2 linked regions of the Homo sapiens genome follow. The main gene of each other region encodes a partner of the protein of the gene in region 2 in a complex. Each region holds a gene or a part of one and is shown on either strand. Other genes may lie near its edges. The genes, in order: KIDINS220 and XPR1.

Region 1 (7,127 bases), on a different chromosome or scaffold from region 2:
TCCCCCTCTACTATATCCCCCTTCCACAGCCCTACTTTAAAGGTCTTCTTTATAACACCTAGCATCACTCCACATACCACATACTTTGTTTTTGGTCTGCTTCCCCTAGCCAAACAAATGTAGCTCAATGAGAATAAAGACTATCTGTTTTGTTTACTGCTGAATCTCCAGCACTTAAGAGAAGTGCCTGGTACACCACAGAACCCAGTATCGGTAGAATGAATGGACATGCCCAAGCTGATCCAACCACCTGTAATGCCTGACCCAACTTTAACATTCTTAACAAGCCAAAACACACCCTTCAAAACCCCCCTCGCGGGTCACCTATAAACTAACTTATGTATGTATATGTATGTATGTATGTATGTATTTAGTTATTTATTTTTATTGAGACAGGGTCTGGCTCTATTGCCCAGGATGGAGTGCAGTGGCACATTCATAGCTCACTGCAGACTCAAACTCCTGGACTCAAGCGATCCTCCTGCCTCACCCTCCCTGAATAGCTGGGACTACAGGTGCATGCCAACACACCCAGATCATTGTTTACATTTTTAATTTTTGTAGAGACAGGACTTGCTATATTGCCGAGGCTGCTCTTGAACTCCTAGCCTGAAGTGATCCTCCTGCCTTAGCCTCCCAAAGCACTGAGATTACAGGTGTGAGCCTGCATGCCCAGCCTTGAACTAATTTATTAAGGGCTGTCTCTCTCCTTCATTCTTACATCCCCAGAACCTATTACAGATCTAGAACAGGTAGAAACTTAATAGATAACCATCAAATTAAATAACTGCATAGGTATGCTAAAGATACCTCTTCTGAAGGACTTTGCCCACCCACAGCCCCTGCTACCCTCAACAGCCATGTTCTCTAGCATCAGCCATTCCCAGGGATGGGCATATGATCTGTGGCATGAAACTGTTGAAAAAGATAAGCTGGGCCAATCAGACTTCTCTCTCTAGAACTGGGAATTAGAAACCAGAGACTGGGCCAATCAATATGGGTCACACATAAAATGATACAGTTCTGAGACAGCCAATCAGCAAAGAGAGAATACAACAGATATGAACAGAAAAGAGACTCCTCCTAAGTAAGAGAACAAATGTGGCCCCTAAGAGGAGGTCAGGGCTGCAGTGAGCCAAGATCACACCACCTGCACTCCAGCCTGGGCAACAGAGCCAGACCCTGTCTCAAAAAAAAAAAAAAAAAAAAAAAGTTGCCCCAGGGAGATGTAGAAAATGGAGGTACCTGGGATCCTGACTTCTTTCTGACTCTCATTCAATCCTATTATCTCCTTTTCCTTGAAGTAAAAGGTTTAAGTTTCTACTGTCTTCTAAACAGCCCTGACAAATACAGTAGCACATAAAATGGAGAAACTGACCGTTCTTGAGCAAAAGCAGGAAGAAGGGGATGGCACATTCATACATGATCCTATAAAAATTAATCTGGCAGTGTATGTGACCCAGACTGGAAAAATACAAAGAATCAGGGCCCTAGATACCAGTCAAGGAATCACCAGACAGTACACAAGAGAGGCAGTGGGAATAGAGAAGAAATGAGGGATATTAACTTGAAAAATATAAAATCCCTGACATTTGAACTTTCTGAACTACCAAAATATCCAGAAGAGATATTCTGGATATAAAGATAAAACTATGTGACTGGTTGGAAAAGAAAACAGGTGGAAGATGACCAGATGCCCAGCATAGGTGACTGAAGAATGGAGCTGCCCTTAACCAAAAAAAAAAAAGCAGGAGAAAGAGCAGACTTTTCTCTACTTAAGTTATGCCTCCTCCCTTCCACCACCCCAGCTGGGCGAATGGGGCTTTGGCCAGGCTGAATTTGAAGTGTCCCAAAAGAACTAGGTTGGAGAAACCCACCCAATACTTGGAAAAAGATACCGTTCACACTGTGTGTGAATGATCTGGAAATTATTCACACAAAGGGTGTAGAACAAGGATTCTCAAACTTGTGTGCACCAAAATTATTTGGGAAGCTTGTCAAATACACATATCCCTTGAGCTCCTCCCCGGGAGAATCCCATTCCCTAGATCTGGGGTGGTGCCCAGAAACTGACATTTTAACAAGCACCCCAAAATGATTCTGATGAAAGTAGTCCATGCTAGTAAAGCTAGAAGAGAACAAAGAACACACCTGGCCACGGCATTTCCCAACCTGGGCTCTGCACTCAATACCCCACGGTGGTTTAAAAAGGTGTAGATGTCTGGTCCTCAGTGTTGTCAAAATGTGGACAGGAACGAACCTGAAGGGGTGATTCCCGAGCCACACCTCAGGCCGAAGGAATGGGAATCTCTAAAACGCTAAGAAATCTACATTTTTAACAAGCGCCCATAGGGAGCAGAGATGGCTGCATAGTTATTCATAAAAAAATTTTTCATCGGTTTAAACCTGTCAACTTGAAAGAATAAAAATTCCAACATTACAAAGTGATGAAGAAATTATTTCCCTATAAATAAATCTTGGAGGCGTGGAAATCAATGGCTTGCACTATTTTGCCAGGCGTTTAAAAGCCTGCACAGGACAATGGAGCAATGGAGCCCACGATAAAAGCAAGGGAGAAAACAACACCTCCCGGCCCGTGGAAGCCTAGGAGGAGGAACCTAGAAAGACTAGCGGTACCAGCTAAGGGGGCTCTCAAGGTGGTGGATGTGCCAGAGGCTGCTTGGCAAAAGAAAAAAAACGGTTTTACCAACACCCTTCACCCCAACCCACCCGAGGGGCCCCTCAGGAGACAGACCACCAGAGACTCCAAGGTCGGAGACCTTCCCGGCGCTCCAGGAAACGCGGACTCGCCCCGAAAGCCGGGGCCCGAGCGTCCGGGGCCCGCGCCATGCCCTCCCCGGGACCCCCGGTCCGAGCTCGCCCCTTCCGCGCACTCCTCGGCTGTCCCACCTCCCCGCCCGACTCCCCGAGCCCGGCCTCGCCCCCGACTCCTCCCCAATCCCGCGGCAAAGCTTCGCGGACCGGCCTCCACACTGACGGTCTCCCAACCTGGTCCTCAGCTCCGGCGGAACGGGCCCGCTCGGCTGCAGGCGATGTCAGAGGACGGGGAAGCAAGAGACGGCGACTGCAAGCGCGTCGCCCTCACCACACCCGGCGGCCATATTCTTCCCTCTCCGCGAACTGACAGATCACGTGCCCTGGGTAGGGGAGGGACTCCGGGTTGCCACGCCCCCTGGGCGTGGAGGGGAGGGGCGGGGCGGGGCGTAGAGCAGGCGGGGCTGGAGGGGCCGCGGGGCGGGGACACCCAGGACAAGCGCCCCAGGCAAGGTTTTTCAGTGTCAATGTCACTCTTATTACAGTTAATTTATTATCCCTATTTTCCATTATAATCAAGCTTATTCAGAGAAATAAACATCAATTATATCTTCAGAAGAAACTGCACATACATAAGAAATGAAAGCCCGCTCAGCAGCCTTCTTCCGGATCCAGGAGCGAGACCTCTGCCTTTCGCGGGGCCTGTAGTTCACACTCCTTCCAGGTCTCCCAGCACCTCCCCTCACCTCCTTCAGCCTCCACATTCCTAGGCCTTGCTGCCAACAAGCGTCAATCTTGATTTTTGAAAAGGTCCAAGGATGATTACGACGTGCGTAGGTTGCGAACCATCGAAAAGCACCCACCAATGTGTCAACCTGGCAACTCAGGAAAAAGCCAATAAGGAGCCTGACTTCATCAGAAGTTGGTGCGGGGTGGGGACAATGGCTCACTCCTGTAATCCCAGCATTTTGGGAGGCCAAGACGGAGGATCACTTGAGCTCAGGAGTTTGAAACCAGCCTGGGCAACATGGAGAGACCTCTTCTCTACAAAAAAAAAAAAAAAAAAAAAAAATACAAAAATACAAAACTTAGCCAGGCGTGGTGTTGCACACCTGTAGTCCCAGCCACTTAGGAGACAGAGGTGAGAGGATCACTTGAGCCCAGGAGTTCGAGGCTGCAGTGAGCTGAGATCACACCACTGCACTTCAGCCAGGGCAACAGGGCAAGATCCTATCTCCAAACAAACAAACAAACAAACAAAAACGGAAGTTGGTGTGCCCCTCATGAAACAAGGAGCGAACACCCCAACGTGTACAGTGGAGTCCTAAATGGTGTGATTTCTTCGATAATGACTTGCTAAGGCCAGCCACTGTTGTAAACAGGGCAGGGTGGGTCAGGCGTTGGGGGTTAGAAGTATGGTAGGTGTATTAGCCCGTTTTCACACTGCTATAAAGAACCACCTGAGACAGGGTAATTTATAAAGAAAAGAGGTTTAATTGACTCACAGTTCTGCATGGCTGGAGAAGCCTCAGGAAACTTAAAATCATGGCGGAAAGGGAAGCAAACACGTCCTTCGTCACATGGCTGCAGGAAGAGAGGTGCCCAGCAAAAGGGTCAAAAGCCCCTTTTACATCCAACAGATCTCGTGAGAATTCACTCACTATCACGAGAACAGCACGGGGGAAACCGCTGACGTGATCCAATCACCCCCGACCAAGTCCCTCCCTTGACACGTGGGGATTATGGGGAATACAATTCGAGATGAGATTTGGGTGGGGTCACAGAGCCAAACCATATCAGTAGGATATAAGGATGAAGCCAACCTTAGAGTAGGGGAGAAGACAAGGAAACAGGTTAAATGTGCGTTATTTAGCACAGCCTTTCTGAGTCCTGACCATGTCCTAGGCACAGTGCAGTAAGGAGGTAAGCACAGAGGATGGAGTTACCAACTCTGCTTGGGGTCCACTAGGAAGGTTCACAAAAGAAGGGACCCCCCCCCCCCGCACCTCCAGCTGTATCTGAAGTATAGTTTGTCCATCACATCAGTTGGATGGGGCTAGGAAGAATGTCCAGGTCGGGGAACAACACTTTGGAAAAGAATAGAGATGAGAAGGAGGGTGGCCCAAAGTTCCAGGAACTGTCAATATTTGCCAGCCTTGGGGCTGGGGTGGCAGCATGGGAGGGGGCAGTAGATGGAGCAGGGGTCAGCCTCTGAAGGGCCTTGAGTGTTAAGTACCATTTGGGAATTTGTTCTAGGGAAATAGAAGGCCACTGAAGGGATTAGAAGAGTATCAAATTTGTCCTATGGAAATAGAAGGCTGCCTCCCCCAGCATCCACTACCCTTCCCACCACCCCCCAACCCCATCTTTCCTCAGCCTCCAGCTGTTTCCCTCAATCCCCTCCATCCTCCTCTTATCCTCTCACTGCTTCCTCCACCCTCTGCCCCCACATCCTCCCCCAACTCTCCCCACACCCCTCTTCCTCCCATCCCCCCCTCTGTCCTCCCGTCTTCCTCCAGCCACCCAAGCCTCTCCAATCCTCCCACCACTTCCCCTAGTCCTCCTTCTGTCCTCCCTCATCCTCTTCCCTCCCTCTCTTGGTAGCACAGTTTAGCACTCCCTCCTGGAAATATTTCTTTTTTTTTTTTTTGGAGACAGAGTCTCGTTCTGTTGCCCAGGCTGGAGTGCAGTGGTGCGATCTCAACTCACTGCAAGCTCTACCTCCCGGATTCACGCCATTCTCCTGCCTCAGCCTCCCGAGTAGCTGGGACTACAGGCGCCCGCCACCGCGGTCGGTTAATTTTTTGTATATTTAGTAGAGACGGGGTTTCATCGTGTTAGCCAGGATGGTCTCGATCTCCTGACCTCATGATCCGCCCGCCTCAGCCTCCCAAAGTGCTGGGATTACAGGCGTGAGCCACCGCGCCCGGCCCCCTCCTGGAAATATTTCTTCTCCTGGGCTTCTATCCCATTCTTCTGGCAGCTCCTTCTCAGATTCCACCTCCCATGAATTGTTGGGGTTGCAGAGTTCTGTCCCCACTGGACTCACCCATACCCCTCCCACCCACCCTTGCTCCTGCGTCACTAGTTTCAGAGACCTGGCTCCAACCCTAACCACCAAAACCGGAAGTTGGAAGTCATCTTCCCCCTGATTAAATGGTCAGTTAATCAGCCCATCACCTGACTGTAGCCACTTTCATCCCAGTGATCTGTTTAAAGGCCTCAGAGCTCCCAACCGGGACTATCCGAATACCCCCAGCAACTCTCCCTGCTAACCCAGTAGCCCTGCTAACCATTTCTCCACAAGCTTGCCAGCTAATGCCACTTCTTTCATTAAACTCTTCAGTGGCCTTCTGTTTCCCCAGAACAAATTCCCAAATGGTACTTAACACTCGAGGCTCTTCAGAGGCTGGCCCTGCTCTGTTTCCTGCCCCCTCCCACGCTGCTACTCCCACCCCAAGGCTGGTAAATATTGACAGTTCCTGGAACTTTGAGCCGTGCTCCTTCTCATCTCCATTCTTTTCCAAAGTGATGTTCTCCAACCTGGACATTCTTCCTAGCCTCATCCAACCGAATGTGATGGGCAAATTCTATTTAAGATACAGCAGAGGGGGTCACCTCTTTTGTGAACCTTCCTAGTGGACCCCCACAGAGTTGGCCATTTCATTCTCCGTGCTTATCTTCGTACTGCACAGTGCCTGGGACAGTGTCAGGACTCAGAAAGGCTGTGTTAAAGAAGGCACATTTAATCTCTGTCCTTGTTCTCTCCCCGACTCTAAGGTCGACTTCATCCTTATATCCCACCATACCTCCGACACCCCCTCCTCCACCCCGCCCTGTTTACAAGAGTGGCTGCCCTTAGCAAAGCCATTACCAAAGAAATCACACCATTTAGGTCTTCATTGTATGTGTGGGGGTATTCTCTCCTTGTTTCATGAGGGTATGAACCCAAAATATCTGAGACAGTCTCAGTCAATTAAGAAAGTTTATTTTGCCAATGCTAAGGAGCACCCGTGACATACTCTCAGGCAGTCCTAAGGACATGTGCCCAGGGGGATCAGGGTACAGCTTGCTTTTAAACATGTTAGGGATGCATAACACATCAATCCATACATGTAAGATTTACATTGGTTCCATCTGGAAGGGCGGGACAGCTGGAAGGGAGGGGGTGCTTCCAGGTCATAGGTAGATTTAAAATTTCTCTGATTGGCAATTGGTTGAAAGAGTTATTATCAGTAGAAAGGGGTTTACTTTCTACTTTTTAAGACTTTACTTTTTAAGTCCAAGGTTTTATTAAGCAGGTGAAGCCGCCAAGTATCAGGCTTCAGAGAGAATAGACTGTCAATGTTTCT
Region 2 (8,033 bases):
CCATCTTCTTTATCAGGCTCACGGGAGGATGTTCCCTTGGGCTCTTTTCCTTTTCACTCTATTCTCTCTCTCGGCAGATTTGCCAGACTTAATTATCACTTAAATGCAAATGGTTCCTCAGTTTTCAGTCTTAACTTCTCTTTCTAGAGCTCTAGATCAGTATTTCCAACTGGAGTACTGCATGTTCCATTGATTCCTTCATATTTCCCACATCTCATGGAACCCCAGACCTGCTCTCTACTTTCATTTCTCATCTCAGTTCATGACAGCAGCATCTACCCAATCACTACAGTTAGAGTCACACGTCACATCTTCTTCTGTCCATGATCCTGATTGGCTGGAGCTGTTGCATCCACAGTCAGTATAATACTCATAGCACTCAAGAGCAAGGACTCTGCATCTGGGTTGCCAGGGCTCAGACCCAGGTCTATTACTCACTAGGGGGGTGCTCTTGAGTAAGATGCTTAACCTCTATGTCTAACTTTACTCATCTATAAAATGAAGATAACAATAGTAGCTACTTCTTAGAGTTCTTGTGAAGATTAAATACATTTATATTTGTAAAGTGCTTAGAACAGTGCCTGGCACATCATAAGTGTTACATAGCTGCTTGTTAATAAGTTGGTCTTGAGTTTGTCCCTGCCCTAGTCCATCCTTCACACTGCTGACAGATGTTTTTGAGGGGTTACCAATTTTTATGTTAAATCAGGGGCCAGTCATTATGTTAAGTGTTTTATATGGAGAATCTCATTTAATTCTCCAAACAACTTGTGAGGGAGGTGTGATAATACCCATTTAAGAGAGGAGGAAACTGGGGCTTTAAGAGCTAGTGCACTTTGCCGAAGGTCACATAGTTTGTAAATGCCAGAGTTGGGATTTTAATTCAGGCCTGTTTACTCCCAGAGCTAGTGCTCAAAACCAGGAAGCTACGCTAGCCTGCTTTTCCAAACCTAAGTTAGTCACTCACTGCTTAACCTTCTTCAAAGACCTCACACTGCCTATGCCGTCAGGAACTATTCCTTCACAATCTTGTTGCAACTTAACTTTATTTCCTACAACTTTACTCCATGGGGCTTCCTGTTTCCTTCTTCCTTCTCCCTCTGTTGGCCTCTTTTCCTTTGTTCCTTCAACCTTTATTGAATGCCTGAGTGCCAGGCACTGTGCTAAATTGGAGAAAACAAGAGACGAGCAGTTTATCTTCAAGGACCTCATAGTCTGATACAAACTATTATTGACAATACAGTAAGGGGAGTGCACTCAGGCAATGTGGGAGCCAGACTGGGAAGACAAGGGACAGGAGCAGGGAGAGTGTATTAGTCCGTTTTCATGCTGCTAATAAAGACATACCCAAGATTAGATAACTTATAAAGGAAAAGAGGTTTAATGGACTCACAGTTCCACATGGCTAGGGAGGCTTCACAATCATGGTGGAATGTGAAGAAGGAGCAAAGGCATGTCTTATGTGGCAGCAGGCAAGAGAGTATGTGCAGGGGAGCTGTCCTTTATAAAACCATCAGATCTCATGAGACTTATCCACTATCACAAGAACAGCATGGGAAAACCTGCCTTCATGATTCAATTACTTGCCACCAGGTCCCTCCCAAGACATATGGGGATTATGGGAACTAAGAGTCAAGATAAGATTTGGGTGGGGACACAGCCAAACTGTATCAGACCGTTTCTTTGAGAGGGGACATTTGGCTGCCTTAAAGGATACTCTGGTCAGAAAATTTCTTGTCATTCTTTAACAATTCTGACTTTGCCTTTTGCCTTAGGGAATCTTTGGGGTGTCTTTTTCCCTGTCAGATGATTGACTAAGACTGGATTTCAAAATCAGCTTCTCTGATCCTTGGATGTTTGTTTCTTTACACATATGTCAATTATAGCATGTATCGCACTGTAGCCTAAGAGCTATTGGTCTACCTGCCCATCTTTTTTTTTTTTGTTTGAGAGAGAGAGTCTTGCTCTGTCTCCCAGGCTGGAGTGCAGTGGTGCAATCTCGGCTCACTGCAACCTCTGCCTCCTGAGTTCAAGTGATTCTCATGCCTCAGCCTCCTGAGTAGCTGGGATTACAGGCATGTGCCACCAGGCCTGGATAATTTTTTTTTTTTTTGTATGTTTAGTAGAGATGGGTTTTCACCATGTTGGCCAGGCTGGTCTTGAACTCCTGACCTCAAATGATCCACCCACCTCGGCCTCTCAAAGTGCTGGGATTACAGGTGTGAACCGTCATGCCTGGCCCCATCTTTTTGACTAAATTGTGATTTCCTCCAAGGAAAAAACAGAGTCTTAATTTATTTTTGAACGGTCCTTCATTCCTAAAGTGACATAACCGGAATATCATAGGTCTCAATAAAGTTTTGTTAAATGAAGGGTTGCTTGCCTATTCACAAAAGAAAGTATAAGTCAGGGGGCTCTTCTGATTCAGAGTAAATAAGAGAGTCGGTGTTCCATAATTACTAAGTATTTGATGGTTCTATCAGTAAAATACCCAAAAATAACGCTGGGAATGAGGAAATGTATTTATTTACTTATTTTGAGACGGGGTCTTGCTCTGTTACCCAGGCTGGAGTGCAGTGGTGCAATCTTGGCTCACTGCAACCTCCACCTCCCGGGTTCAAGTGATTCTCTCACCTTAGCCTCCTGAGTAGCTGGGACTACAGGTGTGCACCGCCATGCCCGGCTAATTTTTGTATGTTTAGTAGAGATGGGGTTTCCCCATGTTGGGCAGGCTAGTCTTGAACTCCTGACCTCAGGTGATCCTCCCGCCTCGGCCTCCCAAAGTGCTGGGATTACAGGCGTGAGTTACTGTGCCTGGCAGGAAATTTATTATTAAATCTACTTCTGTGGATAAATTAAGTTGTCATGTCCTGGGTGGCAGGGCTCTGGATCAGGCATGAGAAAAATCAAGAATTTTAGAGCTAGTTTTGAGGGTTTCCTTACTTTCTTGGGTTGGGCCATGGTTCCAGAATTTTGTGCACAATTAAGGCATAGAGGTACGGTGCTGCTGGGAGCAGTGTGCCATGGTCCACCAGGGTTGCTACTAAGAATTTCCCATTCTAGTCCATGACTGGCTAAAGGCAGGAATCTCTTTTGTAGCTGTCCCTGGTTCCCTTTTCCCAGGCACAACATACAGCCATTTCCTTTCTGTGGTCTCGCCTCCTTCCTGGTAGCACACATATTCCTTTTTGCCTGTCTCTTTCTCCTGGCAAGGTTTACCTCCAGCAGAGGGGAATCTTTATGGTGAGCAGACGGAGGTCTGAGGTGAGAGGAGTCCTCACTCTTCTTTCTTTATTTTTTTGACCTTGATTACCCTTTCACCAGAGGTTAAGGCTTTTATACAGAAAAAGCCAGAAAGACTCATAGTCTATGCCTATTTTCCATCTTGTGTCATCCCTCTCCTGGGGAAATGATTGCAGAATCCCTATTGGCATGAATTAAGGGGAAGAGAAAGGGGAAAAAAGTACATGGAGAAAAAAAGACAACAGCAGAGAATGATATCTCAGAGCACTGCTCCAGGCATAGCAGTTCCCTAGTAAATCTTGAAATCTCATCAAAATTGTGAGGGTTAGGCTGAGCAAGGTGGCTCATGCCTGTAATTCCAGCACTTTAGGAGGCCTAGGTGGGAGGACTGTTTTAGCTCAGGAGCTCAAGACCAGCCTGGGCAACATAGCAAGACCCACATCTCTCCCAAAAATAAACAAAAAAATTAGTTTGGCATAATGGCATGTGCCTGTAGTCCCAGCTACTCAGGGGGCTGAGGTGGGAGGATGGCTCACAAACCTATGTGAGGTAAGGCTGCAGTGAACCATGATGGTGTGACTGCACTCCAGCCTGGGCAACAAAGCGAGACCAAAAAAAAAAATGTTAGAATCAAGGGACAAAGTACATGTAAGAGGTTTAGAATAGCACTTGGTACAGGAACAGTGAGTGCTCAATAAATTATTATTAGGTCTCCTCCACCCAGGGTAGGACCTGGGTTTCTGTCCTGAATTGGGACTTCCAAGACAATCACTCCCACACTCAATGTAGTACAGAGCTCTGTGAGTGATCTCTGCCCATGTTCCCCAGGGACACTTCAGCCTGGGTGCTGGGCCTGTTTCCGGTTTTACTGGGGTGGGCTTAGAGCTGTACTTCTACGGGGTTCTCTTTCCTCTCAACGTTGGTTTCCCTCCCAACCCTCACCCCCAACCCCAGGAAGCTCAGTTTACAAGTGCGGTCGGTACCCTCATTTGGTGTTTTTATTGGCTTTTCTGATAGCCCCTGGACTAGACAATTACATTGAAATTCAGAAGCAGCATGCACTTTTTGGCATTGATGTCTTTAATTAAATTCAATAAGCACTTATTGAGCACCTAGAGTGTGTAAAATACTGTTCCTTTAAATACATTTAGTCCTGAACTGTTTTAGCTTCTTAGTTTGGATTAGTGCTGATCCATTTCTTAAAGGTTTTATGAAGCATAAATATCAAAATGGAAAAATATTTGCACAGTTCTTTGTAAATATAAACGTCTTGTGTGGATTATTGTTGCTACAGTATTAATATTAACTGCAGTAACAACACTGCTGCTTCCCAGACAGGCGGTAGAAAGCAGCTGTAGGCCAACAGGAGCCAGACTGAAGAGATCCAGGGAGGTGCCTCCAGCACGTACGGCCCACAAGGGGCGGAGTCTTAAGAAGCGTACCCAAGCCCCACCCCTTACAGCACCCCCTTCGTCAGGGCGGTGTAGGCGGTTACCATGGCGATGACGTCCAGAGGGCGGGGAGGGGCGGGGCTATGGAGAGGAGGAGGAAGATGGCGGGCGGGCTGCTCTGAAGAGACCTCGGCGGCGGCGGAGGAGGAGAGAAGCGCAGCGCCGCGCCGCGCCGGGGCCCATGTGGGGAGGAGTCGGAGTCGCTGTTGCCGCCGCCGCCTGTAGCTGCTGGACCCGAGTGGGAGTGAGGGGGAAACGGCAGGATGAAGTTCGCCGAGCACCTCTCCGCGCACATCACTCCCGAGTGGAGGAAGCAATACATCCAGTATGAGGTACCGGCACGGCTGGGGTGTGGGAGGACTCGGAGGGGCCACCATCTCGCCAGTCCTGACGTCCACCGCCGCCTTCCGCTTCAGCTGGCTCCCTGTGCCCGGGCAGACTTTGACCCGCTGCCGCGGGGAGCCACTGCGGCATCCCCGCCGCGGCCGGCCGCCTCCCGGCTCCGCTGTCCTTCCCCTCCCCCGCAGCCCCGCTGCCGCCGGGGTAACGGATATGCAGGCGGAGGGCCGGGAGGAAAGGCGCTGCCCGGGCCGGGGCCGGGGCCGGGGAACGGTGGGAGGGTGAGCTGCAGGTGGGGGAGTCACGGTGCGAGGGCAGCCCCGGGTCGCGGCTGTTCCGCGCTAATCCCCTTCTCCCCACTCGCCCTGACCTCTCGTCCCCACCCTGGGCGAGCGCCCCCTCGCCAAGGTTAGGTCTTGTTTCTCTCTCTACACCTCTCACCAAGGAATCCTTGTCTTCCAAGAGAAGCCCCTCCAGTGATTTCCTTCATTCCAAAGAGCCCTTCGGCTTTTTCCCACTTGCCCACTGTTGACAAAGGCTTTGTAACGGGGTTGAAACTTGACTTAAGTGTGTATCACATATGTAGTGGTTATAGTTTTTGTAAACACGTTGTAATCAACTATTCTGCTTTGATAATAAGACTCTTTTTACTGATTGCATGAAGTCTACAGAGTAATAACATCTTTGTTTTTGCCTCTTGTTTTGGAATGGAGGGAAGAGAAAGGAGAGAAGAGAATTATTAACATTTTTTTATTTTCTGCTAAGTTTTTGCTAGCTGGGGAGAAAATTAGTATATTGTAAACAATATACCTTACCTGTGTATTACAGAAATCATGCTCCCCATTCCCTCCCAATTTCTGTGCTAACACTGCTGGAAGGTATTTAATAGATAATAAGGAACCTTACATTAATAAAGGGAAAAATAAAGATAATGAACCCATTTATATGTTCAGAAGACAAGATACCTAAGAGGCTTTAAGCATTGCAATAGGTTATTCTCAGTAGCTGGCAATTCAGCTCCTGGATAGAGAAAGACAGACTTATCTGTAACCTCCAGGAATTCACATCTGTTTTGTGTGCAGGAACAAAGAATATAAAATCAATATGAACACACATAACTTAGCTAGATTTTATGAATTAAACTATTTTAGTTCTCCATTTAATTTTTATATAAGTTTAGTGATAGGAGGTTTGGGCAATAGCAGTGAGTGTATTTATTCATATAGCCATTGTAATAATTGAAGAAGACAGGGAAAGAGATGCAGGTAGGTTAAACGGAATCTTGAATATTGTGAAATAAATTCACTTGCAACCTAGAGTATTTCATTATTGCTAGAAATGAAAGGCCTATAATTATTAATGCTTTATTGTCACTCAATTTCTTACAGTATTTTGTGGCCATGTTTTGTAAGAATGAGTGAAATAAGGGACTAACATTTCAGCCTGCAGAGTTGATTTATTGTTTCTAATAACATTTAGTTTTAAAACCTTGGCTAGAATCCAAGTGATGGTTTTTATTGAAAGAAGGGTATTGGTCTTTCATCTTTCTAGTAGTAATTTTCAGCACCACTGCCAGTTCTTCACAGAGGCACAGGATAGGAGCATGCTGAAGCACATCTTATATTTGTTATGTAGCATGGAATGCTTTGGGCAGAAGTAATAGTGGCTGGATGTATGCCATGATTCATTTTAGGTATTTCGACACTTAACTATTTCATGGAATTGTATTAATTTGCAATATCTGGGGCTGGAAGGAGAAGCATACGATTTAGTTTGAAAATGCAACCCTCTTAATTTGTAATGTCAGTTTTGTGGCTGGAGAACCACATTGATTCTGGGACTCCTCATTCACATAGTCCACTTGGATACTGTTCCTAAATGTTTACTGTAGGTTGGTCACAGAGGGGCAAAATTCCTGAGATTATGTTGTGTCTGCATTATCTTTCTCAGGGCAGTTATAAATTATGTTTTGAAAAATTCGTTTATTGTGGATAATTGAAATTTGATTCTGCGGAGAGTTCCTACTATATGGCTCCTGTCCTAGATAAACTCATTGTTTGGTAGACAAAATTAAATGAGGCGCACTTTTCTTTGTAAGTTGGAATCAACCAATATTTTATAGGGTTGGAATCTTGTTTTGTGTGTTGTTTCTGAAGAGTTGGTGCTATTCCTTTAAAAGTAATAGAGAGATGTAAATAAGAGTCTTTAGAGTCCAGGAATTTTAGCAGTTTAAAACTTTGGGGAAAAAGGACATCCATAAAAATTCTCTAGAGAAAAGGACCTTTTCATAATGAATTAAATTGTAGTTTCTCATATGAAGATGATGCTCTTAAAATGCTATCAGTAGAACAGATGCTGGGATTTGTTTTTCAAGCACTGGTGGTGAAATTTTTGTATTTTACCCTTGGTTTCTAGCCTAGGGTGCTTTCTAGTATCGTGAATCAATGTGAACTGTTCAGCTTCTTTGGTTTTTGTGTCATTTTGCTATATTAAATATTACTTGAAATAAGCAGAGAATTAGAATCTGAAAATTTTGTTTTACATCTGTAATTATATTTAATTATATATAATATGTATATATTGTAGCACAGTAAATACTAGTTTTTGTATGTGTTAGCCATGAGACCTGGGGACAATCTTTTTTGCCTTTCCCGGGCTCGCTCTTCTTCCATAAAGTAAGTATATAGGGCCAGAGCTTTTCAAGGTCCATTATAGGTCATGTTTTTGATTTAACTTTTAATGGCTTTTATTCCTTGAACTGATAAAATTATTAATGATAATAACCCATCAATATCCTGAAAATTATTATGTTTTTTAATTTAAAAATAAGTTGTGGTGTTCATAGATTCAGTCTTCATAGGCAGAATAATAAAGCATAAAATAACAGACCAACATGGAGAAGCCATATAAAGAAAATCTCTTCAATCCATTTGTAAGTAGTTTGTGCAAAGAATAAACACAAACAAGCCGAGACTATTCCTGTTTCCAGTAATCTGTTTG

What was found.
Region 1: the proteins of XPR1 (region 2) and KIDINS220 are in contact, whole or in part, in a cryo-EM structure (PDB 9JXQ), measured with the Homo sapiens proteins. Residues at the interface, in NP_004727.2 of Homo sapiens: Leu95, Lys189, Lys190, Gln193, Glu197, Ala200, Asn204, Glu205, Ala636, Asp637, Asp638, Leu641, Leu642, Gln644, Met645, Met646, Asp647, Gln648, Asp649, Asp650, Val652, Arg653, Asn654, Arg655; in NP_065789.1 of Homo sapiens: Glu36, Cys37, Gln39, Asp70, Trp72, Met102, Trp105, Trp110, Tyr113, Lys114, Val138, Ile142, Trp143, Gly146, Arg147, Ser166, Asp167, Lys168, Tyr169, Gly170, Trp176, Arg179, Lys180, Gln198, Glu199, Gly200, Ala201, Ser203, Lys234, Arg267.

Annotation. Positions count from the first base shown.
Region 1 is NC_000002.12:8,834,471-8,841,597, forward strand, and holds the start of KIDINS220 (kinase D-interacting substrate of 220 kDa), read right to left. Parts: upstream 3,144-7,127; 5' UTR 3,010-3,143; intron 1-3,009. UniProt on the Homo sapiens protein: Promotes a prolonged MAP-kinase signaling by neurotrophins through activation of a Rap1-dependent mechanism. Provides a docking site for the CRKL-C3G complex, resulting in Rap1-dependent sustained ERK activation.
Region 2 is NC_000001.11:180,627,245-180,635,277, forward strand, and holds the start of XPR1 (solute carrier family 53 member 1), read left to right. Parts: upstream 1-4,777; 5' UTR 4,778-4,957; coding exon 4,958-5,026; intron 5,027-8,033. UniProt on the Homo sapiens protein: Inorganic ion transporter that mediates phosphate ion export across plasma membrane.